Linked DNA regions of Homo sapiens: region 1 is linked to region 2. A link means that fine-mapping ties the variant in region 2 to the expression of a gene that starts in the linked region. Tissue or cell type: whole blood. Region 2 holds a variant in brackets; the other region holds the start of a gene. All regions are shown on one strand. Distances are from middle to middle.

The links. PIP is the estimated chance that this variant, and not a neighbour inherited with it, causes the effect.
Region 1: it holds the start of ADHFE1, and the variant in region 2 is fine-mapped to the expression of ADHFE1 in whole blood (TOPMed, PIP above 0.99).

Annotation. Positions count from the first base shown.
Region 1 is chr8:66,431,527-66,434,026 of GRCh38, forward strand. ADHFE1 (alcohol dehydrogenase iron containing 1) reads left to right here and starts at 978. Exons shown (of 14, transcript NM_144650.3): 1 at 978-1,049. The coding sequence starts at 991. It overlaps LOC102724687 (a long non-coding RNA gene), which reads right to left and starts at 840. Exons shown (of 5, transcript XR_929013.3): 1 at 758-840. RefSeq lists a silencer at 812-1,231.
Region 2 is chr8:66,690,657-66,693,391 of GRCh38, forward strand. C8orf44-SGK3 (C8orf44-SGK3 readthrough) reads left to right here. Exons shown (of 19, transcript NM_001204173.2): 3 at 49-104. Among named protein-coding and RNA genes, the nearest start is that of SGK3, 21 kb to the right of the region's middle. The variant G/A (reference allele first, on the strand shown) is at 970.

The DNA of each region.
Region 1 (2,500 bases), 260 kb before region 2:
TGTGCTGTGGTGGCTTGCTGCACCTATCAACCCATCACCTAAGTATTAAGTCCCTCTGCCCCCTTCTATCCCCTGCCCCCAGGCCCCAATGTGTGTTGTTCCCCTCCCTGTGTACATGTGTTCTCATAGAACATTATTTTTTGATTCATTTGTCAAGTTGGCCTGAGCTGGTTTGATTAGGAGGTGAAATGTTTATATAGCTGTCCTTGGTCTTCCTGTCCATCAATCTTTTCCAGTTTGATCGCAGTAAATTCATTTCTGTAAAACTTAATATCTCCCATAAAGGATTCAGATTTCATAATAACAGATTACTAAAAATGCAAATGTTTAGTTGTTACTGTCTTTGGATACTTTCTGATAAAGTTGAGCTTTATCGTTAATCAGCTTTTCCACTGGGACATGGCAGATATGGCACAGCCAAGCCCTCCCGGAGCATAGTCTAATCATGGCAAGTTTTAACTATTGATGTAAGAGTTTTAACTATTGATTTTGCTTTCATCAAAAGCAAAGCCATTCACACAGTATTTAACAAAAACCCTCGGGCTCTGCTAGGTTCTTGTTTACTGTTAAAACAGTTTAAAGGCAGGGTCTTGATCACTTAAAATACTCTTAGAAGGGAAAGTAACATTTTAAAGGATTAACAGTGGAAAAAGAATATCCCTGTTCCTCTTCCTTCCCCCAAGTCCTCAACATGTGAAAAATAGAGTTGATAAGTAAGGAGATTTAAGGCAGAACCCGAGGCCTACGGAGCAGTTACCTTCTACGGCAATTTCAAGGGTGGATGGTGCGAGCGCCGCTGGGGCAGCTGGCGTTCTGGTTCTTACTCCGTGGGAAAATGGCCCTGAGCCCGACTGGCTTGAGGCTTAGACAGGTGACCCCGCGAAGCGGGTGGGCAGGCGCGGCCGAGGGGCGGGAGGCGGGCAGCCTCCGTGATTGGCCGGCGGAGGGGGCGGTGTAGCGACCCGAGGAGGGAAGAGGACTCCAAGCGCCATGGCCGCTGCCGCCCGAGCCCGGGTCGCGTACTTGCTGAGGCAACTGCAACGCGCAGCGTGAGTGCGGGGCCGGCGGGCGGGCAGGGGACCGCAGGGTGCCCACGCAGCCCCCTGGGTGTGACCCGCTCAGATCCTGCGCAGTCTTCTCCGCTTACTTTCAAGAATTCGGAGAATTTGGATACCGCCCTGGGCTCCCACCGCGCGCCAGGCGGAACAGCGAGGTCACAGAGTGCGCGATGCAGCCTCTCAGGGCGCAGTGAGGCAGCCTTTACTCTGCTTGTCTACCGTTAAAGAAACTGAGGCCCAGAGAGGACCTGGTCCCACATCGTAGCAGGCAGTGGAGAGCTTGGCACGGTGGCCAAGACAAATTCATGTATGCAATTGACACATATTTATTGGGCATATATTATGTGCCAAAAACTATTCTAGGTTCTGGGGATACAAAGATGAAAGGCTCTGGAGCAGTTTGAGGTCTAGTGGGGAATGGGATGAGGGGACGAGGCTAAAACCGGCTATAGCAGACTGGGTGTAGAAGGGAAGGATGGATGTGAGAAGTCGCAGAGTCACACTTCCTGGCATGTACAGGGAGTCAGGGTATTCAATGTCATGACACGCCTGCCTCCCAGCAGAAATGTGAGGTACATCCTGGTCACCTGATAAATACTTGCTGACTGTGCAAGTGCACAAGTCTGCCTGGGAAACATGGAAAAGTTTGAGCTCACAGGTGCAGATCAGTAGGAGGAAAGGCGAGGGACTGGCGAGGAACGTCAGGCAGAGAGAAGAGCAACACCAGCGATGGAGATGCAGTCCCAGGACACAAAAGACAAGTAGACCTACCTTTATAAGAGGAGGTAAAGATGGAGAAGACGGCTGATAAAAGACCATGAATAAGAATATAGCTAATACGATGAGCCCGGCAGTGTCTTACACACTTTGAATGGACTATCAGTATAATAGTAACTCTAATCCTTTCACTGACCCTATGACACACGGTATTGTCATCCTCATAGATACGGAAATAAAGGCATGGAGAAGAATTTGTCCAGTGTCACACAGCTAAGCAAATGGCACAGTCATAATTTGAACCCAGATACTCTGGCTTCACAGTCCTTGTTCTTAGGCCTGTAGTAAGGAATTTGAATTGTGTGCTGTAGATAATGGAAAGCCATTGAATAATATTTGTCACCATTAAACACTGATACCTTAAAATGTCCCATGACAAAAGAATTACATGGCCAAATAAGTTTGAGAAGCTCCTTACTGCTGTATTGCCCTCTTGGAGAATCAAAATATACATTAGACATGCAGGGCTCCAAGAAGCTACAAAAAATACTAAAGCTGTGTTCAAATTTTTGGTTGTAAACCTGTGTCATCATAGAACTCTTTGTCACACAACACCATTTATATCCCATGGAATCAGTGTCACACACAGAATATGTTTTTGGAATGGTTGCATGAAAAGGGAGTATGGCATAATCAGAACTGTGTTAGCACATTCTGGTGGAAAT
Region 2 (2,735 bases):
TTTTTTTTCCTGTACTGTGAATAATAAACTTCTTTTTCTCTGGCGTAGATGTCTCCTGTCTTCCTCCAGCATTCACAAACCAGGAACGGCTAGCTTTTTGACCTGTAAGTAGCATAAAATCAAATCACAGACCTGACAGTTTGACTCAGCAAGACTTTAACAGAATGCATATAGTCCTTCAAGAACCAGCATTCACACACGTGATCCACATACATATTATACATTTTATTTAACAAACATGTGTTCCAGGTATTATTCTAAGAGTTTATAGATATAAACTCATTCTATCCATGAAGTAAGTACTATTAAAACTCCCTGTTTTATAGATGGGGAAGAAGATGCACAAAGATGTTAAGTAACTTGCCCAAATCAGGCAGTTTTTAAGTGTCAGAGCCCCATTATTCAAACAGAAACAAATACAAACAGTGGGCACAATGGCTTATGCCTGTAATCCCAGCACTTTGGGAGGCCGAGGTGGGCAGATCACCTGAGGTGAGGAGTTCGAGACCAGCCTGGCCAACATGGTGAAACCCCATCTCTAGTAAAAATACAAAAATTAGGCCGGGTGTGGTGGCTCACACCTGTAATCCCAGCACTTTGGGAAGTCGAGGCAGGCGGATCATGAGGTCATGAGATCGAGACCATCCTGGCTAACACGGTGAAACCCGGTCTCTACTAAAAATACAAAAAAAATTAGCGGGTGTGGTGGCACACGCCTGTAGTCCCAGCTACTCGGGAGGCTGAGGCAGGAGAATCGCTTGAACCCGGGAGGCGGAGGTTGCAGTGAGCTGAGATCGCGCCACTGCACTCCAGGCTGGGCCATAGAGCGAGACTCCGTCTCAAAAAAAAAAAAAAAAAAAAAATTAGCCGGGCATGGTGGCATGTGCCTGTAATCCCAGCTACTCAGGAGGCTGAAGCACGAGAATTGCTTGAACCTGGGAGGCGGAGGTTGCAGTGAGCCGAGATCAT[G/A]CCACTGCACTCCAGCCTGGGCAACAGAGCGAGACTCCATCTCAACAACAACAACAACAAAGAAATACAAACAACATTGCTACAGAGTCTATTGACCCACTGTATCATGCTGACTGTGTTAAGGGCTAGGAATGGATGGGGCAAAGAGAAGATAAGGGAAATGATCAAACAGTTTAATTCCTCAAAACAGTTGTTGAGATAATCAATTTAAAGAGCTTTTTATTCCTAACATATTACAGTTTTTATTGCTTTATTATTCTGGTCATATTGATACACACTTTGATTCAGTGTGCTATACTTGGCTTGTTAGGATTTGATCGAGAAAATTTGTGTCTATATTCAGACTATGTATTCAAAAACGGTTTGTCTGCAAAAAACCTACCCATGAAAGTTTATAGCAGTTTCTTTATTTATAATAGCCAAATTGGCAGCAACCAAGATGTCCTACCCTAGGTGAATAGATAAATAAACTGTGGTACATCCATACAATGAAATATTTTTGGCGCTAAAAAGAAATGAACTAGCAAGCCATGATAAGATGCAGGGGGACAACTTAAATGGATGTTGCTAAGTGAAAGAGACCAATCTGAAAAGGCTACATACTGTATGATTCTAACTACATGACATTATGAAAAAGGCAAAACTATGGAGACAATAAAAAGAACAGAGGTTGGTGGTAGGGAGGGATGAATAGGTGAAAGATACAGGATTTTTAAGATAGCAAAACTAAGCCAGACATGGTGGCTCACATCTGTAATCCCAACACTTTAGTAGCTGAGGCAGGTGGATTGCTTGAGCTGAGAAGTTGGAGACCAGCCCAGGGAAACAGGGCGAAACCTCCTCTCTACAAAAAATATAAAAATTAGCCGGGCATGGCAGCATGCACCTGTAGTCCCAGCTACTTGGGAGGCTGAGGTGGGAGGATTGCTTGAGCCCAGGAGATCAAGGCTGCAGTGAGCTGTGATTGAGCCACAGCACTTGAGAGACAGAGGGAGACGCTGTCTCACATATACACACACACAAAGTGAAACTATTCTGTATGATACTATAATAACAGATACATCATTATACACTTGTTAAAACCCATAGAATGTACAACACCAAGCGAGAACCATACTGTAAACTATGGACTTTGGGTGATAAAGATGTTTCAATGTAGGTTCATCAGTTGCAACAAATGTACCACTTGGGTGCAGATGTTGATAATGGGGGAGGCTGTGCATGTGTGGGGGCAAGGAGTAAGTGGGGAATTTCTGTACCTTCTCAGTTTTACTGTAAAGCTAAAACTGCTTTTAAAAAGTCTTTAAAAATAGTCTATCTTTGAAACTTGCAGCGTACTTTAAAATGTAAAATATTGGTAATGGTGTGATTGTGTATAATAAGTTTTTGTTAACTTCACTCTTTACCTGTGCAAGTCCCCCATGCCCTTGGCCTTTCCTTTCTGTCTGTTACCTCCTCCTTTCCTAGGAAGTGTAAATGGCACGGTCCCCACTTGGGCTCTCTTCCTTTACTCCATTGTCCTTTTCTTAAACCTTCGTAAGCCAGGTTCAATCCAGCTGTCTGCCTCCTCCATGGCTATATCAGGGCTGCAGAGCTTTGCCGGAGAAAAACCACGATGGTGAAGATGACGCCCTGTATACAACTCACAGTCTCCCACCTGGACTCATCCTTCAGTGTTTCTTCCTTCCAATTATTTCTGTTTCTCAAATCAGAGCTTTCTACTTCAAACGTGTATAAGATTTTTTGGGGTATATTTTTGTTTTTTG